Linked DNA regions of Homo sapiens. The protein of the gene in region 1 purifies or fractionates together with the protein of each later gene. This does not show direct contact. Each region holds a gene or a part of one and is shown in the gene's direction. Other genes may lie near its edges. The genes, in order: EMC2, SDHA, HADHB and SLC25A13.

Evidence for each region.
Region 2: the proteins of EMC2 (region 1) and SDHA purify together in Homo sapiens (affinity purification with mass spectrometry; 2 studies listed by BioGRID). This does not show direct contact.
Region 3: the proteins of EMC2 (region 1) and HADHB purify together in Homo sapiens (affinity purification with mass spectrometry; 2 studies listed by BioGRID, with this or other methods). This does not show direct contact.
Region 4: the proteins of EMC2 (region 1) and SLC25A13 purify together in Homo sapiens (affinity purification with mass spectrometry; 2 studies listed by BioGRID, with this or other methods). This does not show direct contact.

What each region holds. Positions count from the first base shown.
Region 1 is NC_000008.11:108,481,599-108,488,623, forward strand, and holds part of EMC2 (ER membrane protein complex subunit 2), read left to right. Parts: intron 1-4,913; coding exon 4,914-5,000; 3' UTR 5,001-7,025. UniProt on the Homo sapiens protein: Part of the endoplasmic reticulum membrane protein complex (EMC) that enables the energy-independent insertion into endoplasmic reticulum membranes of newly synthesized membrane proteins.
Region 2 is NC_000005.10:235,319-242,343, forward strand, and holds part of SDHA (succinate dehydrogenase [ubiquinone] flavoprotein subunit, mitochondrial), read left to right. Parts: coding exon 1-21; intron 22-1,109; coding exon 1,110-1,281; intron 1,282-5,039; coding exon 5,040-5,158; intron 5,159-7,025. UniProt on the Homo sapiens protein: Flavoprotein (FP) subunit of succinate dehydrogenase (SDH) that is involved in complex II of the mitochondrial electron transport chain and is responsible for transferring electrons from succinate to ubiquinone (coenzyme Q).
Region 3 is NC_000002.12:26,282,939-26,289,963, forward strand, and holds part of HADHB (trifunctional enzyme subunit beta, mitochondrial isoform 1 precursor), read left to right. Parts: intron 1-65; coding exon 66-113; intron 114-1,178; coding exon 1,179-1,266; intron 1,267-1,944; coding exon 1,945-2,019; intron 2,020-2,468; coding exon 2,469-2,633; intron 2,634-6,979; coding exon 6,980-7,015; 3' UTR 7,016-7,025. UniProt on the Homo sapiens protein: Mitochondrial trifunctional enzyme catalyzes the last three of the four reactions of the mitochondrial beta-oxidation pathway.
Region 4 is NC_000007.14:96,319,095-96,326,993, reverse strand, and holds the start of SLC25A13 (electrogenic aspartate/glutamate antiporter SLC25A13, mitochondrial), read left to right. Parts: upstream 1-4,895; 5' UTR 4,896-5,037; coding exon 5,038-5,052; intron 5,053-7,899. UniProt on the Homo sapiens protein: Mitochondrial electrogenic aspartate/glutamate antiporter that favors efflux of aspartate and entry of glutamate and proton within the mitochondria as part of the malate-aspartate shuttle.

The sequences.
Region 1 (7,025 bases):
AACATAGAAATAAGAATTATAACAGAAAAAAGGATGCAAGTCATAAATGTGCCTTTCAGTGACTAATATAAGGTAAATGTATCCAGGCTAATAAATATAAACATTGCAGCATCCCAAAGCTCTCTTGGTAAGTCCTCTTAATTTCTCCTTTTGTATTCCTTAAGAGTACTCACTTATAACCCTATAGTTTATGGAATCAGCCAGTATGTATTCATTTTTGTCTTGCATATTTCTATCATTATTCAGTTTATGGGATTTATCCTTGTTTGTGTCTGTAGTTCATTCATTTTCTTCTGTAGTTCATTGTATGAATGTTATAATTTAGTTATTGCTATGCATTTGGAATATTTTCTGTTTGGGCTATTTTGAATAAACTATACTGAATATTGCTGTACAGGTCTTTTGGTGGAATATATGTGCAGTTCTGTATACCTTTGAGTGAAAATATGGGTCATAGAATGTATGTATATTTAACTTTAGTAGTTAAAGGCAATTTTCCAAATTAGTTTACTCCCACCAGCGGTAAGAGTTCTAATAGCCCCACATCTTCACCAACACATGGTTCTGTCAGTCTTTGTAATTACAGCCATTCTGGTACATGTGTAGAGTGGTACTTCATGGTTTTATTTTGCATGTCCCTGATGATCAGTTGCCATTTGGATGTCCTCTTTCGTGAAATGTTTTTCTCATTGGTTTGCATGACTTATTTCTTTAGTTTTTTGCTTATGAGCCCTTTTTTAGTTATATGTATAAGCAAATATGTATAACTTCTTACTTTTTTGCTCATATGATCTTGATGAATAGAAGTTCTGAAATGAAATGTGTTCGAATGCCTCAGTCATTTGTTTGTGTTTTTTGTGTTCTGTTTAAGAAATCTTTTGCTACTCACGGTCATAAAGAATTCTGTGTGTCTTCAGAATTTCTATTCTTTTACTTTTCGTATTTAATCCACAACCCATTTGGAATTGATTTATTTTTAATTTTTAATTTTTATTTTTTTAAGACAGAATCTGGTTGGTTCTGTTGCCCAGGCTGGAGTGCAGTGGCATGATCATGGCTCACTACACCCTCAACCACCCAGGTTGAGTTATCCTCCTGCCTCAGCCTCCCAACTAGCTGGTACTGTAGACGCATGTCACCGTGCTCGGCTAACTTTTAAATTTTTTGTAGAGATGAGGTCCAGCTGTATTGCACAGGCTGGTCTCAAACTCCTGGCCTCAAGTAATCCTCCTGTCTCAGCCTCCCAATGGAGTGCTAGGATTATAGGTGTGAGCCACCGCATCTGGCCTGGAATTGATTTTTATGTATGATGTGAAATAGGGGGTCCATTGCTCCCCATATGGATATCCAGTGTTTCTGTCCATCTTTGTGTTCCATCATGAGTCCCGTCCATGGAAGCTAGTTCAATGTAGTAAAGAGAAGATTACAGATTTGAACCCATGTTGTCTGGGTTCAAATTTTGACTCTGATATAATTATTAGCTATGCAAACTTGGATAAATTACCTAACATCTCTTGCTGTATCTTTTCTTCTGCAAGATGGCCATAATGAAATATTCTGAGAATTAAAGAAATTAAAACATAAGTTATTATGTTTTTCCTTTTCCCTGTCTCTTCAGTGTGACAAGACCCCCTTGAGGTATATTGAGATATAATTTACATGTAATCAAGTGCATATATTTTAAGTATACAGTCTGAGTTTTGACAAATGTGTACATCCCCTTACCAGCCCCCCACTCAAAATAGCATTTCCATCACCCAAGAAACTTTCCTTCTGCCATTTTGCAGTCAACCTCATCCCCCACTGGGAGACAGACAAGCACTGATCTGATTTTTATCACCAAACATTAGTTTTGCTTGTGCTATAACTTTGTATAAATGAGTTCATAGGTTATGTGCTCTTCTGTGTCTGGCTTCTTTCACTCAGCATGTTTTTGAGATTCATTCATTTACAGTCCATTTCATTTTTCCTATTACTTTGTCTACCCATGTATTTTCCACAAATTATGTAAAGGTAAATTTAAGCCCAAGCAAGGTATCTCAGTTATTACAATGCATGAATCACTGACCTCTGAATTTGATAAGCAAGTTTTTATTGTTTGGTTGTTTTTGTGTTTTTTTCTGGTGAGTTTTCTTATAGATCTTACAGAGAATTATGAAAGATTTACTTAAGCAAAATCTAACTGTATGAAAACAAAAATACAGTATTTGTGAATAATGTAAAAGAGTATATAACTTTCAGAGAATGACATTCTTGATAACTAGGTAAATCTTTGGGATCTCAGTGAGAATTTCTTAATCATATCTAGGAATATAAACCGGTATAGAGTATATAATATTTCGTATGGGATTTTTCTACGTATTTATAAATTAGGGAAAATTAGGTTTCAAGAACTGCTTTTCTTTCTTTGTTTCCACTTAATGATGAAACAGAATATGGCTACTATTTGCTCGTCAATTAGGTAATTGGTTTAGCATGTTCAGTAGAAGCAGACACATTTGATTAATGCACATGAAAAACTTTAATGTGAACCTACTCACAATGATTTTCCAGATAAATCCTTCTTTGTTGCACTGGTAAATCTGTGCTAGTGATTTATATGATATTTATGATTGCAGCAGTGATTCTGTTACTATCCTTTTGGGAAACAGAAAATTAAATCATGATTTGAGGGAAAAAATGATTCTGACTTAATCAGTTAAATTGCCATACAATTCTGGAATAGACAGAATAATTGCATGTCAGATTAAATTTGAAGTGATAGATTTGTATTTCCAACTTTCTTTTATTTGTTCTGACACAAGTAAATTTATTTGGTTTATTCTAAATTGCACTGGTTGTGAGTAATGTTGACACCATCTCAGTTGACTCTTTAAAATTAGCTAATTTTAAAAGATCACACTGTATTATTTTTATGTTTAAGTATAAACCAAGAAAAATACTGTATTTAAAAATACATGTTATGGTTTTAGCTCTACATAATTTTTTTTATTTTTACTTTGCTATTTAAAAGCAATTAGAATAAATGTTACGTGGTAATGTTACTATGTGATGTCCTATTCTGTACCCCTCCCCCAACCCATAAAACTTTTTCTCAGAATTAGACCTTTAAGTATCTGATTAGGACCGTTCCTATTTATGTTTCATAAATGGTGGTAAATGAAAAAGCTTTCTGTTTCTGGTAAATCCTTGTGTAAGTGAATTTATTAACTGGATAACAGAAGTAATAAGCATGCCTCACAGCCTTTAGTCCTCAGGGGAAATTATAAAAAGACAAAATTTTAAATGTGATATTGCTGTTACCATATTTAACATATGAATTCCTTAAATTCGTGATGCCTTTTGAAAGGCAAGGTGATCTTGATTTTTATGAGAAGCTTTTTTTCTTTTTCCTCTGGCATTTCCCCTAGAAACATCCTTTATTTACTTTTTCAAATCAGGATTCAGCTACAGAAACTAATCTAATGGTTTAGAGTGTAGGAAGTGAGGGAATCATAATGTTAAGCTGTAGCCAGAGGGGTCAGAGACAGGTTACCAATTCCTGAAGCTTGTTACTTCTATGATGTTACCTGTGTTTGATCACTTAATCTTTCTGAACAGGTCATGAGAAGTTTGCCAAATTAAGTTAATTACAGAAGACAAGAAACACATCATAAATCAAGTACTAAGTGCTTAAGACAGCATTGTTACTTGAAGAAATGATCATTCACTTGAAAATGTATTGAGTGGTTTGATGTTAACTTGAAAACACTAGATGTTGCTAATACCAAGTATTTTAATCATATTTAACCAGGGAGAAAATGGGTAACATATATATATATAAAATATATACATAATATATAATTAATATATATACATATATATAATATATATAGGTAACATATATATATAAAATATATACATAATATATAATTAATATATATACATATATATAATATATATATGTATATATATATACACACACACACACATACACACACAATAAACTTTCTCCCATCTCCATCAAGGAACACTTACTTATCTAGTAAATCTTTTGTTTTAAATCAGACTGATAAATGATGGGAATTGTCAGTCCAGTTAACAAACTCATTTTGAAATCAGCATGTGGTATTCAACAGTGTTTCCCTCCAGCGGTTATGTGTATGATATTGAATTTAATATGCCATGAATTTGCTTTTAAATACACAAATATAGGGTATATTTTGTGTATATATTGATGTATTTATTTTGTTTTCATAGTAAAATCCAATCCCAATTAGTTTTATAATGTAAATAAATTACAATTAATAAAGTAGAAATGCATATTTTAAAACATGTTTACATTGTTTTAATGTGTAGCATAGGTTTTTACTTGACAGCTCTTTGCAGAACCATATCATTTAGTTAACTAATAAATCTGGAAACTTAAAAAAAATTATGAGCTACTTTAAATAATTTTAGAGAGTACTTGCAACTTTAAAATGTTTAGTGAAATAACTTGTATTTGTATTGTACCTTTGTTTGAAATTGTAAAAATCTGTTTAGACATCAGACAAGTGGAAGTGGTTCACACTGCTACACTACATAAATATAAGCTAAATTGCATTTTAAAATTATACTTTTTATTTCATTATTTTGGTCTGAATAAGATAGTTTCAAATACATGATTTTATGGGTTATTATATTATGTAAACACTTAAACTGGCCAAGTGTGCAGTGAACTCTCTGTACACTTCAGCTGAAGGTAAGACCTTAAAGGAAAATGTCCTTAATACTCAAATTTTATTCTTATTGAAAAAGCAAAGAATATATTTGATTTCCTACTAGTGATAAAATAGTCAATGTTAAGTTTCATTAACAGTGTGAAGATTGTCATTTTTAACCTGCCACTGAAATTGAGCCTAATTGAGCTTTTTTTTTTTTTTTTTAATTAGTTTGCAGGTCGAAGTAAGAAGGAAACCAAATATTCTCTTAAGGCTGTCGAAGACATGTTGGAAACATTGCAGATCACCCAGTCTTAAGGTTTCAAAAACTCTTTGACATTAGATTTCACAACTGCACAATTGAACTTATTGGCCTGTAACTTATTTACTAAATGCTCAGTGCTATTTATATACTACAGTAATTTTCTGTTAAGAAGGCAGTTGTAAAGAATGTGTTTATATAAACCTAAAAATGCCTTTTACTGCTAAGTGGGGAGATGGGGGAAATCCATGGAAGAGAGATTTAAGACTTATTGATTGTACATCAGTCTCTTCATATCACATATACATGTATATATATAAAACTCTAATGTAGTATAACCTTGTTAAATAAACCATGATGATTTATTAAACTTGCATATGAAGATTCTAACTTCATTTTGTTATACTCACAGTGGATATATTGTTTAAGAACTCAGTTTCTAGTTAACTCCTTACTGGTGATAGCAAAGTCACAGCATATGTAGCTGACCGAAGCAGATTATTTTGACTTTGTTTATATTGTCGAATTGGATTTTGCTGTACATTCCAGTGGGCTATTTGAATTGTTTTATCTGCTGTAATATCCTTCTGATGAATCTTGCTTAAAATATGTCATTCTCCAAAGTTCAGCAATATTTCTTTGTAAAATTTTTGTTTTGATATAGGACATAATTGAGATTTTTACATATAAAATGCCTTAAGATAAATATGTGTTACGACACTTTAACTTTTATGCAAGTTATATTTATTGAATCCTTTAATAGTAAATTACATGAAAGAATATTAAAGAATCATAAAGAGTAGGGATTAAAGGGGTTGTAGTTATTTTTAATTTTGAAAAAAATAAGAAAATTAAAACTATCCTTAGAAACAAAAATGTTAAAATTTTCCTATTCTATCATTACCTTAGTTAGAATTTTTTATTTTTCTCTTTTCATAATAAACAACCATTATGCTACCTTCAACAGTATTTGACATGTTTCAACAAAATAGAAGAGACTTGAAAGTTAAATTTCATTTAGACACAAATCAGTTTTTAAAATAGCAACTGTTCACCGCAAATATTTATGGTATTTGTTTATAATAAATATATTTAAATTTATTTTTACTAAAAATATACAGAGGCATCTACAGACTTGTCATTGCTGCTTTGGACAAGTGGGGATTGTGGAGGAATTGACAATCTAGAAGTGTTTAGAAAGAAAAGTATTGTCAATATCAGCTTCTTTTAACCTTTTGAATAGTTCTGCTAATAAATTATTCTCCATATCTAGTCTAATCTTTCATATTACAGTCATTTTCGTTTTATTCTGCCACGAGTAATAGGCAGCTGATTAATATATTCTGTGAAAGAACTCTTCTCATCTGAAGGTAATTCTCTACTAATCTTTATTACCACAAAGATCCCGTCTTTGTACACATGAAATTAGTAACTGCATTTTCAACATGATGAACCATTTGAAATTTACATTTTCTGTAAAGAAAATAGTGCCTGCACGTTGTTTCACTACCTTTTCCCCTTCAAACCTCCTCCCCGTCAGTCACTGGATTAGTGTTTACTCTAGCAATTATATTTGTGTAATAAGTAATTCAGTGCCTCTTATAGCTGTCTGCCTTAGTTTCACTTTTTTTTTTTTTTTTTTGAGACAGTCTCGTTCTGTCACCCAGGCTGGAGTGCAGTGACGTGATCGCAGCTCACTGCAACCTCCTCCCGGGTTCAAGCGATTCTTGTGCCTCAGCCTCTGAGTAGCTGGGACTACAGGCATGTGCCACCATGCCTGGCTAATTTTGTATTTTTAGTAGAGATGGGGTTTCACCATGTTGGCCAGGCTGGTCTGAAACTCCTGGCCTCAAGTGATCTACCCGCCTCAGCCTCCCGAAATGCTGGGATTACAGGCATGAGCCACTGAGCCTGGCCAGTATCACTTTATTTTTTCAAAATTTTAATAACTTCTTTCCAAGATTTTATATTTGTTAAGCACATTGCCAATCCTTAGTTATTTATAAACTTCAACTTAAATGTACTGATAATCCCATTACAGCAGGCAGTTGCCTACAGCTATTACCTTTATTTCTTCTTTA
Region 2 (7,025 bases), on another chromosome or scaffold:
CCCACCAACTACAAGGGGCAGGTGATGGTGCTGGCTCCTCCCCCACAGCTGGAAAGAAGGCTGGGACGACGGGGCCCACCTCGCAGTTGTCTCTTTAGATCTTACAGGAAAAGATAGATGTTTCCTTCAAGAAAGTACTGTATTGTTTTCTAGATTGCACTTTAAATTTCTATTACCGGAGGATGGAGGGGGCTTAATAATTTATTCCTCCTTAGTAAATTGTCAGAGATACATCATTTGCAGCTTTTTCCATTTTGTAATTACTTTCCTATATGATCTTGTGTTATTTCTAATGATCTTACACATCAAGGGATCTTTATAATTCATTCCTTTGAGTGGTTTGTGGTTCACACAGAGCTTGTCAGTCACTTAGGCTCCTTGTTGGGCGAGGTGGGTGGAAGCTGTTGCTCTCCCTGCGTAGACGAAGAGGTGAACGGGGTAGAACAGTCTGGAACATCAGTCTCCCCTGCTGATGTTCCTCCACCTGCCGTGCTCCTGGGTCTGAGCCGGAGCACAGGTGGTGAGGGCCCCGGGAACATGGGACACGGGGGACAGTCGCAGATGCTGACATTGGAGGTCCTCTGACCTGCTTGTAACAGCAGGTGCTCAGGGGCAGAGGGGAAACTGGGGGATACCTTCGGAAGCTTCCCTCTGAAGAAGAGTAGCTATGGTCCTTACTTCCCTCTTAGATACGGTCTTTACTTCCCTCTCTTTTTTTTTCTTGGAGATGCAGTCTCACTCTGTTGCTTCGGCTGGAGAGCAGTGGTGCGATCTCAGCTCACTGCAACCTCTGCCTCCCAGGTTCAAGTGATTTTTCCGCCTCAGCCTCCCTAGTAGCTGGGATTACAGGCACCCGCCATTATGCCCCGCTAATTTTTGTATTTTTAGTAGAGATGGGGTTTCACCGTGTTAGCCAGACAGGTCTTGAACCCCTGACCTCAGGTGATCACCCACCTCAGCCTCCCAAAGTGCTGAGATTACAGGCGTGAGCCACCACGCCTGGCCTACTTCCCTCTCTCTGACCTGCAGCACAGACACCCTGTTGGGGAAGGTGGGCTGGTGGAGGCATGGGCACCTTGACATTTCACCTGAAATCTTCCTTTCCACAGGTCCTGAGGCACGTGAATGGCCAGGATCAGATTGTGCCCGGCCTGTACGCCTGTGGGGAGGCCGCCTGTGCCTCGGTACATGGTGCCAACCGCCTCGGGGCAAACTCGCTCTTGGACCTGGTTGTCTTTGGTCGGGCATGTGCCCTGAGCATCGAAGAGTCATGCAGGCCTGGTAAGTGTTTTCTTCAGGAGCCAGACTATTTGAGAAGGCGCAGGACGTTAGAAAGTCTTTTTTCTTTTTTTTGAGAAAGGGTCAGCCCAGGCTGGAGTGCAGTGGCACAGTCATAGCAGCCTCAACCTCCCGGGCTCAAGCAGTCTTCAACACCTCAACCTTCAGAGTCCCAAGTAGCTGGGACTACAGATGTGCACCACCACACCTGGCTAATTTTTAAAAAAATTTATTTTGTAGAGACAGGGTCTCACAATATTGCCCAGGCTGGTCTTGAACTCCTAGACTCAAACAGTCCTGCCTCAGCTTCCCAAAGTATCGGGATTACAGGCATGAGCCACTGCACCCAGCCAGGTTACAAAGCCTTGATTTCTTACTGGAAATTTGCTTAGTGATCATATAGAGGTAGTCTGGGTTTTTCCCCCAGAAGTGATTAAACTGAGAAATCCAGAAATTATATGGTGGTAATGTTGAGACTAGATAGAGGCTGGTTGGGGATCTTAACAGTTAAGGTGACATTTTTGGGGTTACATTTTTTTTTAATTATTTTGCAGTCATTATGTTCTGTTTAGAAAAAGCACTATTAGAAAGTTGTTATTTTTAGGGGAATCATTACATATTACTTGCCTGATAAAAATCACTTATTTGCAATGAAATATTTTAAGTAGTTGGCATGAATGAATATGTAACTTCTTGGTACTTAGAAAAGTAATTTAGGCCATTCTAGAAACAAAGTACAGCTAGCCTCTATTAGAGGAGAAGGGATGACTTACAGTGAACAGGATTCCCACCCTTTACGGACAGATTGGATTTCACTTGCTGGTTTTCTTTTCATGATAGCATCAAATAATGTGCAGTAAAGGAAATACCATGTGTGGGAGTGTGAGTCTTACGTGCACTAAGAACGGGGCAGTTAGCATCTCTCCCACCTCCAGACATCCTCACGGTGGTTATCCAGCCTCGTGTGCTCAGAACAGTGTGAGGTGGATGAGGCACTGGTGGATGTTTGCGTGGCAAGGATGGTGGGACCCCAGGCCCATGTTCTTCCCGTTACCTTTCTCTGGTGTTAACTGTTAGCATCATTTCTGCTGTTTTTATACAACAGGTGCTTTTTGTATGGATTCAAGTGAAATAAAAACTAGCACGGCTGTAACTTATAAACGTGCCCCCTTTTGTATCTGTAGTTAGAAAGGTGCAGATAGTATTAAAAGGGTAGCTTACTTCAGACACTCTGTCTCTGGATCTGACCACCGCTCGGGAGGCCAGCACACGCAGAGCTGGCGTCTCATCCCCAGCCATTGGTGATCATCGGCGAAGGCGGAGTTCAGGTCCATCGTTCCTGACGCCGCAGGTAGTGCTTGTCTCACTCCATAGCCCTGCACTTTGTCGCAGTGAGGACTGATACCACTTCTCTCAGAGCAATGTAGAAATTTTGAGCTGCTCTTTCTTTGAAAATGCAAAAAAGAACATTTTGTAAGAATACCCTATACTTTACATCTGAGAAACCGCCCACGCATGCAGCATCTCACGCAGAATGCTGTGGAGTCAGACTCAAAAGGCTGCATGCCTGTGGTTCTGTTGATACGACATTCTGGAAAAGGCACATCTAGGGAAGACAAGGGATTGGTGGTTGCCAGAGGCTGCTTCCTGATTGTGCTGAGACTTACAGACACAACTCTGTGTGTGTCAAAATTTGAAAAACCCTACACTAAAAATGATGAGTTTATTTTACTGTATCTTTATGCTTTAATTTTCAAAAATGAAAAGGAAAGAAAAAATGCTTGTAGCATCACTATTCTCCCCCAAAACCCCCTGCAAAAAAAAATACATATATATACACATATATATGTATTTTTTTTTTTTAAGAGATAGTCTCCCTCTGTCGCCCAGGCTGTAGTGCAGTGGTACGATCAGGTGCACACCACCACACCTGGCTAATTTTTAAAAATGTTTTGTAGGGACAGGGTCTCCCTGTGTTGCCCAGGATGGGCTTGAACTCCTGGCCTCAAGTGTTCCTCCTGTCTCAGCCTCCCGAAGTGGTTACATGCGCCTATACATGTGTTAAAATTGGTAGAACTGAGGCTGGGTGCAGTGGCTCACGCCTATAATCCCACCGCTTTGGGAGGCCGAGGCAGGCAGATTGCTTGAGCTCAGGAGTTCGAGACCAGCTTGGGCAACGTGGTGAAACCCCGTCTCTACCAAAAATACAAAAATTAGCTGGGCATGGTGGCTCACACCTATGTAGTCCCAGCTACTTGGGAGGCTGAGGTTGGAGGATTGCTGGAGCCTGGAAGGCAGAGGTTGCAGTGAGCCAAGATCACACCACTGTACTCCAGCCTGGGCAAGAGAGGGAGGAGACACTGTCTCAAAAAAAAGAAAAAGTAAATTGTAGAACTGTCCACCTAAAGAAAAAAGTCAATTTTACTGAATGATCAATTTTTAAAGCATTATTATCAAAAGGAAGAGAAACACCAGCGAGCCTAGAAGCATTTGAGCAGACCCTCAAGAGACCCATAGCCTGGTCCTGTGGAGAGGTGGTGGGCGGGGTGGGGCCTGTTTGACTCCTGCATTTCATACATCCTACCTCCTGCATGTATTACCTGTTGAAGAAAATATATATAACGTTATAAAAAAAACTTAAAAACTTTTTTCAAGACATCGTAGAAACACAAGAGTTGCAAATCTTGGCTGTGCGCAGTGGCTCACACGTGATCCCAGCACTTTGGGAAGCCAAGGCAGGTGGCTCACCTGAGGTCAGGAGTTCTAGACTGGCCAACATGGTGAAACCCATTTCTACTGAAAATACAAAAAATTAGCCAGGTATGGTGGCATATTCCTGTAGTCCCAGCTACTCTGGAGGCTGAGGCAGGAGGCTTGCTTGAACCCGGAGATGGAGGTTGCAGTGAGCCGAGATGGTGCCACTGACTGCACTCCAACCTGGGCTACAGAACAAAATTCCATCTCAAAAAAAAAAAAATTGCTAATCTTGAAGTATAGTTGAGAGCACATAAGAGTCCAAATCAACAGGTGACTTTCAAGCACACAGCAGCCACCTTCCCCCCGCTGATGTGAAGGGTGGCCGGCCCCTTGGGACCACCATCTGGAAGGTGTCTCTTTTTTCCCTTAGTGGAGTGACATTTATATACACTTAATATATATAAATTTGTATACATTTAATTTTTTTTTTTTTTAAGACAGGGTCTCGCTCTGTTGCCCAGGCTGGAGTGCAGTGGCGCGATCTCGGCTCACTGCAACCTCCACCTTTAGGGTTCAAGCAGTTCTCATGCCTCAGCCTCCCGAGTAGCTGGGATTATAGACGCGTGCCACCATACCCAGATAATTTTTGTGTTTTTAGTGAAACGAGGTTTTGCCATGTTGGCCAGGCTGCTCTTGAATTCCTGACCTCAAGTGATCCACCTACCTTGGCCTCGTAAAGTGCTGGGATTACAGGCGTGAGCCACCGCACCCGGCCTACATTTAATTTTTTAATTTTAGAGATGATTTCTAGTTTATTCACTCTAAGATCACTTAATGGATATCTACTGTGTGCCAACAATTTTGCCTTTATGTTCTTTAAAATTGGCCCCAACTCAACAGATGGCCTCAGCTGTAGGGTGGGCTGGCAGTGTGTTAGCTCAGGAGACTTACAGAGTTTCCAAGCTCCTTGAGTGGCTGTGCTACATGTTTGTGTGTCATTCTAAATCCATTTGGTTTTTTAAAACGGTTTTCAAAAGTTAAATTCTAGCTTTTTTTTGTTTTAGGAGATAAAGTCCCTCCAATTAAACCAAACGCTGGGGAAGAATCTGTCATGAATCTTGACAAATTGAGATTTGCTGATGGAAGCATAAGAACATCGGAACTGCGACTCAGCATGCAGAAGGTAAGAGCCTGGACTCGCTCTGGAGTGAGCAGGAGGGCTGCATACCTGGCCCTGCACTGGTTTTGTTTTTTAAAAACTAGATCTAGGGGGATGCAGGTGCAGTTTTGTGTGGATGTACTGGGAGGTGGTGGAGTCTGGGCTTTTCATGTACCCGTCACACAAGTCGTGTGTGTTGTACCCAGTAGGTAATTGTTCAACCCCACCCCTCCCGCTTTTTGGAGCTCCCAGTCTCTGCTACTCCACTCCATGTGTCCATGTGTACTCACCATTCAGCTTCCACTTCCAAGTGAGAATGTGTGACACTTGACCTTCTGAGTCACTTCACTTAGGATAGTGACCTCCTGTTCCATCCGTGTGGCTGCAGAAGACATGATTGCGTTCTTTTTTTATGGCCGAGTAGTATTTCATGGTATATATGTACCACATTTTCTTCATCTGGTCATCCGTTGATGGGCACTTAGGTTGATTCCATGACTTTGCTGTTGTGACTAGTGCTGCGATAAATACATAAGGCTGCACCAGTATCTGGAGGTAAACAGCGGTAGGACGTACTCCTCACCGTATCAAGAATATGAAAGAGACCAGGAGGCCTGAACTATACAGAAGTGCACTTCTTTTCCACATAGAAGGTCGGCAGACTAGGGCAGAATTAGTGACTGCTTGGCATCCAGGACAGCCTTCTGTGGTTCACTCGTGTGTGCTTGGGTGTGACCTCCGTGACCTGACCATTGCTGGCTGTCATGGATGAGTCACAGCGTGGAGGAGAGGGAACTGCAGGACCGCTGGAGAAGCTCAGTCCCCAGCAGGGCAGCTTTCTCTTAGAGGTTTCCTGGAGTTCAACACAACACTGGTGCTTACATCTCAGGCCCGGATATCGATCATGTCATCATGCCTGGCTTCCAGCAGCTCGGAAATGTCTTTAAGCTGGACTTGTTGCTGCCTCTAAATATACTCGGAAGAGAGGGAGAGTGGGCGGCAGGTGGAAACTGATCTGTGGCCTGTGCTGCTGGGAGTCGGTCCAGTAGGACCATCTGTGATGATGGAAATGTTCCGAGTGTTTGCCATCCAGTATGGCAGCCATTAGCCATGGGGCCGTGGAGAACCTGATACATGGTCAGTCTAAGAAACTGAATTCCTCTAATAACAAGGATTCTTGTCCATGAATGAGATCTCTTGCCTACTATTTGCAAGAATTTCTGTGTATTTTCTAAAAAGTCCATTGCTTTAGTCCTATTCTGAAATAGGTGTCTAACACCTATGTGGTGTTAGACACAGGAGAACAGGTTCCCTGCTGACATTTTCAGAGGCCTGTGCCCTTCAGTCTTCAAGTGAAGCTGGGCTTCAGGGAGGCTTTGTGGAATGGTGAGAAGAACAGTGTGACTAAGGCACAGAAGGCTGAGTGATGCCCTGCAGTACTATTGTAGGGTTGGAGGCCAGCTGGGAAAGAAAGAACCATTGCATTAGAGAATGGGAACATGCCTTCGGATATAGAAATGGCAAATCCATGAGATAGTTTAAAGTGAGAATACTAGAAGCATTCCCACCAAACATGGTGTGTCTTGGTGCCTGCTGTATCCCAGGCTCCACGAGATGCTGGAGTCAGCACTGAACAAACAGAGTTTCCTCTGCTCGTGGAAATGCGTTCCGTTGGGGAAGGGATTTTTCTGCTGAGTCTGGCTATTCATAGTAAGAAGCAAAAAAAAGAAATGAGGTAAATTTTTGGGAACAGGCCCCCAAATGTGGCCCAAAACTGACCATAAACAAAATCTCTGCAGCACTGTGACATGCTCTTGATGGCCATGACGCCCACGCTAGAAGGCTGTTGGTTTACCAGAATGAGGGCAAGGGACACCTGGCCCACCCAGGG
Region 3 (7,025 bases), on another chromosome or scaffold:
CAAACAAATCATCTCTGATTTCTTTATTTTATTACCAAAGCTCACCTCTCTATTTTTTTACCTAGGGATTTTATGTATGTGTCTCAGGATCCAAAAGATCAACTATTACTTGGGTAGGTAGCAGTTTGTATCCTTGGACTATAATCACAAGTATTTGATTGCCTATGTTTTATTATACTGGTTAATAAATGATTAACACTGGTTTATTATTTATTTGTTTATTACACTGGTTTGAGAGTATATTAAGCCCTGAGTTCATAATTGGTTTATGTGGTGGTTTTTTTAAAAAAAATAATAGTAATCTGGCCGGGCACGGTGGCTCACGCCTGTAATCCCAGCACTTTGGGAGGCCGAGGTGGGCAGACCACGAGGTCAGGAGATTGAGACCATCCTGGCTAACACGGTGAAGCCCTATCTCTACTAAAAATACAAAAAATTAGCCAGGCGTGGTGGCGGGCGCCTGTAGTCCCAGCTACTCGGGAGGTTTTGGCAAGAGAATGGCATGAACCCGAGAGGCAGAGCTTGCAGTGAGCCAAGATCACGCCACTGCACTCCAGCCTGGGCGACAGAGCGAGACTCCATCTCAAAAAAATAAATAAATAAATAAAATAGTAGTAATCCTTTCCATTGGTATATCATGTTACAGTTTTGGATTATTTTCCATTTTTTTCCTATAAGTTTTACATATATATATGGACACACACAACTTATATTCTTTTTCATTAAGATAGCATATGCATTTTTTCATATGGCTACACACCCTGCTACACAATCTTCCTAATATAGCCTTTTATAAAAGCCTCCCCATGTTTAGACTCTGTTCCGTTCCCTCACAAGGCTGTAGCCTCTAGCCTCCACTGTGACGTTCACATCAGTCAAGCCCTTTCCCTTGCCTTGCTCTTTGAACTCTGTTCTTCCAGTTCTTCATGTTATTAGCTTGTCCTTATCCCTCACTGTTTATTTATTATCAATTTCTCTGACTCTGCAACATAAGAGTAGAGGGCATGTCTGTACAGTTTCACTATTTTATCTTTAACATTTCATTAATCAGTACAGAAAAATCAAAGAATGAGTGAAAAGACATTAGAGTACCTATGTAAAACTCAGTTTGGGGAATATGAAGGAGCTCTTAGTTTAAAAATTAAAGTTTTAAGATATTACTTATTTTTTCTTTGCAGACCAACATATGCTACTCCAAAAGTTCTAGAAAAGGCAGGATTGACCATGAATGATATTGATGCTTTTGAATTTCATGAAGCTTTCTCGGTAAGTAATTTGAAAGACACATATGAAGGGACTATAGTCATAAAAAATGTCATCCATATTTGTGGGAGAGAGCAAGGCATGGTTTATGATGTGAGTAGAGCAGGAGTGGACCTGCATATTTTAAGTACTGATTCACACTGCTGGGAGGGGCCCGAGGGGAGGGAAGCAAGGGCCACACATACAGTGTTGGAGAACATACCAAATTGCTTCTTTAGGAAATTGCCATTGAAAACTGATACAAAGATTTGTTCAACTTTACTTTTTTTTTTTTTTTTGGAGACAGAGTCTTGCTCTGTTGCCCCAGCTGGAGTGTAGTGGCACGATCTCGGCTCACTGCAACCTCCGCCTTCCAGGTTCAAGCAATTTTCTTGTCTCAGCCTCCCGAGTAGCTGGGACAAGCAGGCGCCTGCCACCATGCCCGACTAATTTTTTTTATATTTTTAATAGAGACAGGGTTTCACCATATTGGTCAGGCTGGTCTTGAACTCCTGACCTCAGATGATCCACCCGCCTTGGCCTCCCAAAGTGCTGGGATTACAGATGTGAGCCACTGTGCCTGGCCGATTTGTTCAACTTTAAACCATACCTAAAGTTGTTAAACTTTCACAAACCATTCCTATAAGAAAGCGTAGAGGAACATGAATAACGAGGTTCTTATTCGATTATTTTCTCTTCCAGGGTCAGATTTTGGCAAATTTTAAAGCCATGGATTCTGATTGGTTTGCAGAAAACTACATGGGTAGAAAAACCAAGGTGAGTTTCTAATTTTAAAAAATGCGTGAATTTTCAAAGCACGTTAATAATTGGATCTTAGTTACCTGTTCTTAAGAATATGAAGGGAAAGCTTCTCTTTCTTTTGAAGAATTTTGTCTTTCATTAAAGATATTTATTTCTTAGTGTAAAAGTAGAAATTCTTGTATTTCATTAAATATATTTATTTCTTAGTTTAAAAATAGAAATTATTTAGCAAAAATAAAATTCTGTGTTTTTTGTTCCTTGCATTCTGACATTAGATGAAAAATAAATGGACTCCTGACTTTTAATATTGACCTAGACTTACTTTCTTTTGCAGTAAAATTATTTGTAATATGTCTGACGTTACGTATTTTCCTCTATCTCTCTTACTTCGTAGTACTAAGAGCCTAGCTTGATTCTGATCTTAAGTAAACTTATCTTTACATTTGTGTCTTTGGGGGAGCCAGGTTGGATTGCCTCCTTTGGAGAAGTTTAATAACTGGGGTGGATCTCTGTCCCTGGGACACCCATTTGGAGCCACTGGCTGCAGGTTGGTCATGGCTGCTGCCAACAGATTACGGAAAGAAGGAGGCCAGTATGGCTTAGTGGCTGCGTGTGCAGCTGGAGGGCAGGTACGTTACAGTGGTGTCATAGGACCCTCCAGAGAGTCATTTTCTTGGAATGACTAGAATGTATGATTTAGTTTGAAACCTTCTTAAAGCAATATTTTTGATGACCTGGGGGTGGGGAGTGGGGAGGGATAACAGCTGTAATTCTGATAAAACTTTTTGTTTTTTGGGTTTTTTTTTTTTTTTTTTGAGACAGTCTTGCTCTGTCACCCAGGTTGGAATGCAGTGGTAATATCTTAGCTCACTGCAACCTCCACTTCCCGGATTCAGGTGATTCTCGTGCCTCAGCCTCCCGAGCAGTTGAGATTACAGGTGTGCACCACCATGTCCAGTTAATTTTTGTATTTTTAGTAGAGACAGAGTTTCGCCATGTTGGCCAGGCTAGTCTCGAATTGCCGACTTCAAGTGATCCACCCTCCTTGGCCTCCCAAAGTGCTGTGATTACAGGCATGAGCCACCATGCCCTGCCATAATTCTGATAATTCTTTGGAAGGAAACAGCTATTTAAACCCAAGCTATTTTTCCCCAATATAATGTTTATTTTTTACTTATAAATATATGCTGATTATGAAAATTGTGGAATATATGAAAAGTATATAGAAAAAGTTAGAATCATCTATAATCTCCCCATCAGACATTAACATTATTAACATCTTGATATATTTTCTTCTTTAATAATTAACTTTTATTTATCTAGTCACCATAAGACTTTATAAAATCTCTCCAAGAGAGAAACTATCTTTCTAGAGAACTGAATTATACCTTAACTGGGGAGTTAATTTACTTCTGGATAACTTACTGCTGTTCAGCTGGGGAAATATATTGTTGACAGATTTTTTCCTTTCTACTTCACTTGCATTAGAGACCCAACTTCCTGACTGCTGTAGCATCTCACTCTAGGAATAAAATCCAAAAGGAAGATTGTAGTTTGTTTTTTGTTTGTTTGTTTTTTGAGACAGAGTCTCACTCTGTCCCCCAGGCTGGAGTGCAGTGGTGCCACCTCGGCTCACTGCAACCTCTGCCTCGCGAGTTCAAGCGATTCTCCTGTCTCAGCCTCCTGAGTAGCTGGGATTACAGGTGCTCACCACCAAGCCCGGGCAATTTTTTTTGTATTTTTAGTAGAGACGGGGTTTCACCGTATTGGCCAGGCCGGTCTCGAACTCCTGACCTCAGGTGATCCGCCTACCTCAGCCTCCCAAAGTGCTGGGATTACAGGCATGAGCCACTGTGCCTGGCCTGTTTTTGTTTTTTTTTTTTTTTTTTAATCCCGATGTGAACAGATTTTCTCTTCCTCTAGATTACAGAAACTTCCTGTTCCTGATCAAAATGAATAAATATTTAAAAGCATAAACTGGCCGGGTGCAGTGGCTCACGCCTGTAATCCCAACACTTTGGGAGGTTGAGGCGGGTAGGTCACTTGAGGTCAGGAGTTCGAGACCAGCCTGGCCAACATGGTGAAACCTTGTCTCTACTAAAATTATAAAAACTAGCCTAGTGTGGTGGTGTGCGCCTGTAATTCCAGCTACTCAGGAGGCTGAGGCAGGGGAATCGCTTGAACCCGGGAGGTGGAGGTTGCAGTGAGCCGAGATGGCGCCATTGCACTCCAGCCTGGTGACAGAGAGAGACTCTGTCTCAAAAATAAAGTAAATGAAATAAATCTTACGTTTAAAAGCCCTTTTTCATGGATTTTCCTCAGAGACTTTGCAGAAACCAAGGGGTCAGTTATTTATCAGTTGGAACATTTTGGACTTTATGATCACAAATGCTTTTTAATCTGTGTAACTTCATCTACAGAAAACCATGGTCCATTAAGACTAGAGCGATCCCTCTATCTCTTCATGCCAGGCTTCTACCAGGGAGATAACCTGTACACATTACTCACGAGCATAGTGCGTAATCCACATAGGGTAATGTCTGCAGATTTGAGTATGTGTTCCCTAATTCTTTATCTAGCATGTAGAGTATAAATAACACAATACTGGATGCTTTTATGGATGAACAAGGAATAATACCTAGCACCTTTCTTCTAGAAGTTTATAGTATGAAGAGAGAAGATAAGATGCATCTGAGAAACTAGATTAAACTTGACATTGTTTGATCAAGAGCCACGTGAGCAATACCAACATGGTTGGAGACAGAGGAGAAATCCATCGTGGTGAATCTAGAGCAGGGTTTCTCAACTTTGGCACTAACATTTTGGGCCAAACAATTCTTTGTTTTGGGGGGCTGTGTGTTGTAGGGTGTTTAGCATGGCCTCTACCCATCGGATAGCAGTAGCAACAAGCTCCTCCCCACCTCTGCCCCAGGTACACACGGTTGGTATAACCAAAAGTATCTCCAGGTGTTGCCAAATCTGATCTAGAGCAAGAAAAAACATGGAACATGAAAACAGTGTGTTTAAAATAAAGCCAGAGAGGGCTGGGTGCGGTAGCTTATGCCTGTGATCGCAGCATTTTGGGAGGCTAAGGCAGCTGGGTGGCTTGAACGCAGGAATTCGAGACTAGCCTGGGCAACATGGCAAAACCTCGTCTCTACCAAAAATACAAAAATTAGCCAGGTATGATGGTACGCACCTGTGGTCCCAGTTACTCAGGAGGGAGGTGAGAGGATTGCTTGAGCCCGGGATGTTGAGGCTGTAGTGCGCTGTATTCACGCCACTGCACTTTAGCCTAGGTGACAGAGTTGCCTTGTCTCAAAAAGCAAATAAAGAAATTAAAATAAATAAAAAATAAAATAAGCAAGCCAGAGAGGAGTAGTCTACCTTATTATGAATTCTTTCAGGACAACCCCCAAGTCAGTCAAACCTTCCTATCCCTGCTCTTTTTTTGTCTGCTTGTGCCTTTTCAATGTACTTAACATGCCAGGTGTGGTAGCTCATGCCTGTAATCCTAGCACTTTGGGAGGCTGAGGTGGGCAGATTGCTTGAGCTCAGGAGTTCGAGACCATCCTGGACAACATGGCAAAACCCCATCTCTACTAAAAATACAAAAACTAGCTGGGCGTGGTGGTGGGTGCCTGTAGTCCCAGCTACTCGGGAGGCTGAGGTGGAAGTATCACCTGAGCCCGGGAGGTTGAGGCTGCAGTGAGCCGTGTTCAGGCCACTGCACTCCAGCCTGGGTGACAGAGGGAGGCCCTGTTTCAAAAAAAACAGAAAAACCAAGTACTTAACAGTTTGTTTTGAACTCCAGTGTATACTTGATTGAGGACAAAGACCATGTGGCAAATCTTTAAACCTGCAGTGTTCAACTTGGCACTTTGTAAATAATAGTTTCTTTTATTTACTTTTTTGTTTTTTAGAGGGTGTCTAAAAATTCTATGCTAGGATTTAGACTCATCTAAACTAAGGACATAGCTAGTACATAGCACTGTGCATAGTGCTGGATAAAAGATATTCTACTTCTGGCCGGGCACAGTGGCTCATGCCTGTAATCCAGCACTTTGGGAGGCCGAGGCAGGCAGATCACGAGGTCAGGATATCGAGACCATCCTGGCTAACACGGTGAAACCCCATCTCTACTAAAAATACAAAAAATTAGCCGGACGTGGTGGCGGGCGCCTGTAGTCCCAGCTACTCGGGAGGCTGAGGCAGGAGAATGGCGTGAACCCGGGAGGCGGAGCTTGCAGTGAGCTGAGATCGCGTCACTGTACTCCAGCCTGGGCAACGGCGAGGCACGGTCTCCAAAATAATAAATAAAAAAAATAAAAAAAGAAAGATATTCTACTTCTTCCCTTTGTGGTCCCTCAGATCATTATCTTAACCTGTGTAGAATAGTGAAGAAGGGACAAGCCCAGCCTTTGGAATCATCTAGACCTGGTTTCAAATCCTGGCCCTGTTACCTTAATAGCTTTGTGATTTGGGTGAGTCACTTAACCTTTCAGAGCCTCAGTTTTCCCCTCTAGAAACTTACTTTTATTGGTATTTGCTGTATCATGTTTATGTTTATACAGTTAAAAAAGCCCCTGGATTTCTCATTTTAACAGCATCCATTTGTAGAGCATCACTAGGAATTAGATTCTGTACTAGACAGAGCCTGATGCATATATGTATACATGTATATATGAATGTATATAAATATATATGTGTGTGTATATATATACACACATATACAAATATACTGTATGTTATGTGATGCCCACAAAAACTCTATGAAGTAGACACTATGAGCCCCATTTTGTAGAGGAAATTCCAGTTTAGACTGACTACAAACTTTCCCAAGATCACAGTGATTGATTGGCAGAGCCAGGATCCCACTCCAAAGCCTGTACTTTTCTCCTTGTTCTCTGCTGTCCCTGTACTAGGTGGATTCATCACCATTCATTGCTCTAATTGGACTTTGTTTTCTTTACAGGGCCATGCTATGATAGTGGAAGCTTATCCAAAATAATAGATCCAGA
Region 4 (7,899 bases), on another chromosome or scaffold:
TGAGTGATAATGAGTAAGTTCTCATGAGATCTTATGGTTTCATAAGGGGCTTTTCCCCTTTGCTCAGCACTTCTCCTTTCTGCTGCCACGTGAAGGACATGTTTGCTTCCCCTTCTGTCATGATTGTAAGTTTCCTAAGGCCTCTCCAGCCATGCTGAACTGTGAGTCAATGAAACCTCTTTCCTTTATAAATTACCCAGTCTTGGGTATGTCTTTATTAGTAGCATGAGAACAAACTAATACGTAGGTACTGGGGAGTTAAGACTTTTGGATGACACAATTTAATCCATAACAGGGCCTTTTCAGTCAAAATTCAGTGCCAGCTACTGTTAATGGTAGGAAAGAGGGTAATCTGGGAATAGTGAAGAGGGACAAATATCAGGAGGGCATGTAAGCCTGTAATGATAAGAAAAAATGAAAGATACCTAGCCAGTTCACACTTTATCTTCTTAGATGATGTTTCACATCATGCTGTTATTTACAGATGAAATGGAGCCCAGGGAGCATCTTTGACTTCTTTATTTCTAGGTTCATGACAGTTTAATATTTTTAAAATTTCATATTTTGAGGAATTCTAGAATGAGGAGGGGAGCTTAATCAAGTAAGTATGACTCCAAATGTAAATTGAAATATACTTTTACAATATGTATCCATAGTGTGGTAGGTTTGGTAAACTGAATGATAGGCCCCCTAAATATGTCCATGTCCTGATCCTAATCCCTAGAGATTTTGAATGGTACTTTATGCAGTACAGACTTGGCAGATGTGATCAAATTAAGTATCTGGAGATGGAGAGAGTACTTTGGATTATCTAGGTGGGCTCTAAATGCAATCACACATGTCCTTATAAAAAGGAGGTAGAGGAAGGTTACAGACAGACAGGTCATGTGATAAAAGCAGAGTCAGATATATGGTGCTATGCCCATTGGCTCTGAAGGTGAAGAAGGGTGCCATGAGCCCTTAGACAAGACAAAGAAACATCATTCTCCTGTAAAGCCTCTGAGAGAGAACAGTCCTGCTGACACTTTGATTTTAGCCCCACAAGACTCACTTCGGACATCTGGCCTTCATAATGGTAAGAGAACAAATTTCTATTGTTTTAAGCTACCAAGTTTGTGGTAATTTGTTATGGCAGCCACAGGAAACTAACACAGAGTATAATTCATCGTTTTAAATGCAAAAATATGGTCAGGTGGGTGGTTCATGCCTATAATTTCGGCACTTTGGGAGGCCAAGGTGAGTGGATCACTTGAGTCCAGTAGTTCAAGACCAGGCTGGGCAACCTGGTAAAACCCCATCTCTACCAAAATATACAAAAATTAGCTGGGCATGGTGGTGTGTGCCTGTGGTCCCAGCGACTTGGGAGGCTGAAATGGGAGGATCAATTGAGCCCCAGAGATCAAGGCTGCAGTGAGCTGAGATCACGCTACTGCACTCCAACCTGGGCAACAGTCTTAAAAATAAATACATAAACAAAATAGGCCAGGCGCAATGACTCATGCCTGTAGCCCCAGCACTTTAGGAAGCTGAGGCAGGAGGATTGCTTGAGCCCAGGAGTCTGAGACCAGCCTGGGCAACATGGCAAAACCCCATCTCTACCAAAAAATATAAATTTAGATGGGTATGGCAGTGCATGCCTGTGGTTCCAACTACTTGGGAGGCTGAGGTGAGAGGATCCTTTGAGCCCAAGAGGAGGAGGTTGCAATGAGCTGAGATCACACCACTGCACTCCAGCCTGGGCAACAGGGTGAGACCCTGTCTCAAGAAATACAAAAACAAAAAATAAAGTAAAATAAATATGTCTTGATACACACACATAAGCACAGCAAGACATGAAAAAATACAGTAGAATGTTAACAATGGCTAACTCTATTGATAGGATTATCAGTGATTTTTTGGCCATTACTATGATTTTCTGAATTTTCAAAAATGTCAAGAAGAAGTATAATGGACTTTTTCTATTAAAAAAATTAATGGAATATTGTTCAACCTTGAAGAGGAAGGAAATTCTGACACATGCTATATAACATGTATGAAGGTTGAAGACATTATGCTACAAAACACAAATACCATATGATTCCATTTATTAGGTACCTAGAGTAGTCAGATTTATAGGAGCAAAGTAGAATGGTGGTTGTCAGGGGGTTGGGAGATGGAGTGGTTGTTTAATGAGTACAGAGTTTCAGCTTTGCAAGATGAAAAGAGTTCTGGAGATTGGCTGCACAACAATGTGAAAGTATTTCACTACTAAACTGTACATTTCAAAATGGTCAAGATGGTACATTTTATGTATATTTTATTACATTAAAAATTTTTTGTTTCATTTACATTATAAAAGGAGAGCTTTAATGATGCCCTTAAAAATAAATACGTGGTACATGATGTAATTTTGTTCTTTACATGAGGTTGTATTTTCTCACCTCCTTTTACACTCCCCTTGTGGCAGCTGGGGCCATCCTCCACAGGAGCTTCAGACTTGTCCCCTTGTCATAATTTTCTCTAACAATTCTCCTGGTTTTCCTTTTGTCTTTTTTTTTTTTTTACTTTTTGCTGATCTTTCTTCTCTGCCTATGAACATGGTCAAGTCTTCTGGGCTTTGTTGAACCTTTTGAGAGTAGGTTAAATAGTTGCTTCTTTCTGTAATGCTTCTTTCTTAAGCTTCTACAACATAATTTGTATGTTGGACATACATTCTCCTTACAGACAGACTCACACACCTCAAAACACTCCTCTTGAATTACCAATCTCAGGTGTTTTTCCAGACACCCATACCACAAGTCTATGTGCAATATGGCACAACTCCCTTTTTCCGTCCCAACCCCACTAATTTTACCTTCTATGTATTCCTCTAGTCCTAGCCCATCCCCAGCCTGTCTCGTCTGGACATCCTGGTAGTTCAGTTGGAACCCATCCTCCATACTGCAAGCAGTGTTTTAGTCCATTTTGTGTTGCTGTAAGGGAATTCCTGAGACTAGAAGAACAGGACGGAAATGTATTTCTCACAGTTCTAGACGCTAGGAAGTCCAAGATCAAAGTGCTGGCAGGTTACGGCCTGGTTTCTCTGCTTCCAAGATGGCTCTTTGAATGCTGTGTCCTTCAAAGGTGAGGAATGCTATGTTCTTATATGGCAAAAGAGCAGAAGAGCAAGAGAGAGTGAACCCACTCCCCAAACCTCTTTTTATGGCAGCATTAATCCATTTATGAGGGCAGAGCCCTTGTGATGAAAATACCTCCCCAAGGACCCAACCTTCCAACACTGATGCATTAGAGATTGTATCCAACACATCAATTTTGGGGGGCACATTCAGACCATAGAGAGATCTTTCTATATCGAAAACCTAGTCATGCTGCTTCCTGACTTAAAACCCTTCAGTTAAGGTGCATACCCTTCAGCAAGGCGCCTAAGACCCACCATGACACAGCCCCTACCTGCTGGGCCAGACTCCTTCCACTAGTCGTGCCACTGCCCCAATCCCATAGCTCAAGATCAAGTTACCTTTTGATATGGTTTGACCGTGTCACTACCCAAATCTCATCTTAAATTGTAGTTCCCATAATCCCCACATGTCATGGGAAGGACCCGGTGAGAGACAACGGAATCATGGGGGCGGTTACTCCCATGCTGTTCTTGTGATAGTGAGTTCTTATGAGATCTGATGGTTTTACAAGGGGCTTTCCCCCCTTTGCTTGGCACTCATTCTCTCTCCTGCAACCCTGTAAAGAGGTGCCTTCCACCACAACTGTAAGTTTCCTGAGGTCTCCCAAACCATGCGAAACTGAGTCAATTAAATCTTTTGGTTTATAAATTACCCAGTCTCAGGTATTTCTTCATAGTGGCATGAGAATTCTCAGTATTCTTATTGAGCCCTGGGAACAGTCTGCTGCCTTAACAGGTTATACTGAAGTAAACATTTATGTGTCTCTTTCCCAATAGCCCTGAAGCTGTTTAACGGTTGGAACCAGTTCTTAAGTCATTTCGGGGTTTCCAGCACCAAGCACAGTGCCTAGCACATAGTAGGAAGGCACTCAATCAACGTTAATGAATTAAACTGATTAGTAATAAGTGCTTTTTGCTGCCATATTACATCCACAACCTACAATACATTAAAAGTCCTTTTCCCTGATCACCACTGTCTTATAAATTTTGATTACAAGGACAGAAGAATGAAATCCTGATGAAGAGGAGTAAGGCCTGGAGGTCATATAAGCAAATTTTCATTAAAATGCTTGTTTATTTATTTTAGTAGGGCCTATTTGGGGGAAGTCTTTTGACCCGGGCCTTTTGACTTCTACCGTTTTAACAGGTAGGGCTGAAATGGAGTAGTTTCATGAATATACGTTCTGCACTACATTCACTTGTTGGGTTCTTAAGAGTTCACCGATTTTGATCTAAAAGTAGGCGTGCCAGCAATATTTGCAATCTCGCCTTCTAAGTCAATGCTTTTGGATCAAAGTCTTTTTGGATCCAGTGTAAAGTGGAGCTCCTTCAAAGGGAACGCACAGGGGAAAAAATATCCAGCAAAGTATGTGTCCTAGTGGAGTTCTCAACTTCCCCAGGCCGTGCACCATCTGTCGTTACTTGCCCCTCCCATCGGTCCGAGGGCCCAGTAGCCCCTGGTATCAGCAGAAGCCAGCAGCTTCCCTGGTGGGGCCACCTGCCCTCAGGTGACGGGCTTGCACACGGCCAAGTTACCTCTGCCCACGCCGCAGAGGCCGCCGCTGCTGGACAGCGCAGCGGGGTCACGTGTCCCTGTCCAGCCACTGCCCCAGGATCTGAGCCCTCCCCGGCTGCAGGGCAGAGGCCGCTGGATCACGCGCACCCCGGCGGCCAAGGCTGGGCCCAGCCAATGGGCGGGCAGCATCCACATGACCCGCGCCGGCGGGAGGGCGTGGGGAGGCAGGCCAGGAACGCACGCTGCCTGGCCGTATCGCCGCCCCCACCGCCGCCGCCGCCGGGACTAGAAGTGAGCCGCCCGGGTCCCAAACGCCAGCCAGCCAGTCAGTGGGTCCCGCAGTCGCCCGCAACCGGGGCGAATCATGGCGGCCGCCAAGGTAACCGCGGGCCCGAGGCCGGGGGGAGCGCGCCTGCCGGATCAGCCTGGGGGTGCGAGAGGCTCGGGCGCTCACGTGTCTGGGTTGGTGCCACAGGCGGAGCAAAATGGGGTGCCGGGCAGCCGTTCCACCTTGCGGCTGCTGGAGGGAGGGGGCCACTCCTCCCGGGCAGCACAGGCGGTCGGTGCAGAGACCGAGGCCCGACCTCGCAGCGGAAACTTTGTGGGCCGGACACTCCCACTTGGCCGGGGAGGGAAGTTGGTGCCTGACGGGGCTGAGCCAGGGCCGACGAGGAGGAGCGGGCGCGACTGGGGCCTGGTGCACCCTGGGCCGGCAAGCGCTGGGGGTCCTCTCTACCTTCCCAGCGCGCTCCTGCTCCTGACCCCGCTGGTTGTTGACTCCGGCTTCTTCCAGGGGCCAGAGCCCGGGCTGAAGCCTGATCCTATTACGTTTCAAGGGCTCCGCCCTCCCGCGGGTGGGGAAGTTACTTTGACTTCCGTTTTGGAAACTGCCTAGGAGACTTGGTCTGCGCCTTTGTGAATAAAAAGTCCAGGGACTCTCCCCCTCCCCGCTTTCCCATCATTCCCATCTTCCCCCTCCCTCTCTCCATCTGACAACACTTAGATACCCGCCTCGGAGCATTTGAGAGGCTTCTTTTTGGGAACGATGAAACAGATTGTCCTGGGAGCCTGTCACTCCTGTGAAGTTGTACTTGAAAGGGGTTCTGTGTAATGTGAATCATTCACTAACCCAGAGGAAAGGCAACTCCAACACTTGACCTTTCCTCTTTCACCATTTCTTGAAACCTGGACACCATTTCAGTCTCTTTGGACTGCATTTCAACTTCTCTGGCAGAATACCATATTTAGTCCCAATCACTTGAATCATTTGGAATTTATTGCTTTTAATTTAAGTTCACGAAGGCAGCCCTCTAATCAAGCCTATACAACTTCTTAGCTCATTTTAAGTGCAGTGAACTTAAATATACCTAACATTTCAAACATTTGTCCTTAATCAAAACTCTGTGATAACCCTCAAGAGGAAAACATGGCCAACACATCATATTCCTATTTATTCAAGCAAACTAATCACATTTGCAATGGAAATTGTAAGCAGACAAATATATTTAAATGCTGTTCTATGACTTAAGTCTCTCCAGGCTCCCCAAATCCGTAGGCTTCTTCATGTTGTTAGTTTCTGTGGTCTAAGTGGCATTTCTCTTTTCTGTAATTACTCTGAGTTTCATCCTTAGGAAAGTACTCTGGGTGTGTGGGCTCATGTATGTTTGCATATGAACACACAGGTGTGCGTGTGTATATCTATCTATAACTTTTCAGCAGTTTCTCTGAGCATCACTAGGATTCAATTTTGGAAGCTGCCTTAACCCTTTCAAGCCCAATAGCCCTTGACCTTTTTTTTGCATTAAATTTGCATGCAACCAAGGTACAAGGCTTGGTATGAACTAATTCCCTAGAGTAGGTGGGACTAGGTACCCATTCTTTACTGTTAGTTTTATATCTGCAGGTAATGTAAATACTTTTACTTTATTAGGAGATAAGGTAATTGAGGAACATAAATTGAGACGTGTGCATAGAAATGGAGTATAAGACTTGAGTAATATTAAGTAAAATAAGTGACCTGGTGCTGTGGCTCATGCCTGTAATCCCAGCACTTTGGGAGGCTGGGGCGGGCGGGTCAGTTGAGGCCAGGAGTTCGAGACCAGCCTGGCCAACGTGGCAAAACCCTGTCTCTACTAAAAATACAAAAAAGTTAGCTAGGCGTGCTGGTGGGCACCTGTAATCCCAGCTACTCAGGATGCTGAGGCAGAAGAATCGCTTAAACTCAGGAGGCGGAGATTGCAGTGAGCCGAGATTGTGCCATTGCACTCCAGTCTGGGCAACAGAGCAAGACCCTGTCTCAAAAACAAATAACAACAACGACAAAACATAAAATAAGTGATATGGAAGTTAGTTCAACTCTTTGGTTGTACTTCTACATAATAGTAGAAGTGTCACATATCAAGGGCAGTTGATTTTTAGCTAAGTATTGAGTCAGGGAAAATGAAATGTTCATTTTTACTACTTGGGAGCTTGTGTTTTTGTTTATGTCTTCATTTGCACTCACCTCTTTCTGTGATATCTGATGGCTCACATCATATATACTTATTTTGCAATCCAATAAGATATATAAAAATCAATTCCAAGTAGATGGGAAAAACAGGACAAAGGGAAAGTAAGACAAAGCCAGGACTAAGGTTAGTGGAACATTATGTGCTTACTAGAGGTGATTGCATTTTCTCCCAGCCAAAGCAAAGAGGAAATGATCAGTGAGGTCATTTACTTGGGAGAGAAGTCTCCTTATACTGCTCTCTGAGAGCAGTTTTTTTTTTTTTTTTTTTTTTGAGATGGAGTCTTGCTCTGTTGCCAGGCTGGAGTGCAGTGGCATGATCTTGCCTCACTGTAACCTCTGCCTTCTGGGTTCAAGTGATTCTCCTGCCTCAGCCTCCCAAGTATCTGGGACTACAGGCACGTGCCACCACACCCAGCTAATTTTTGTATTTTTAGTAGGCCAACATCATGTTGGCCAGGCTGGTCTTGGATCTCTTGACCTCGTGATCTGCCTGCCTTAACCTCCCAAAATGCAGGGATTACAGGCATGAGCCACCACGCCCAGCCGAGCAGTTTCTTTTATATGCTGTGAGTGAACGGCATTTGAATCTACCTTGTGACCACAGATATATGTCTGTGGGTTACATAAGGCCATTTCTTATCATGTCCTTCATTATAACTCAATGGCAGTGCAGTAAATGTGGCCTTAAAAGGTCCCTCAATGAAGCTGCTGGTCTAA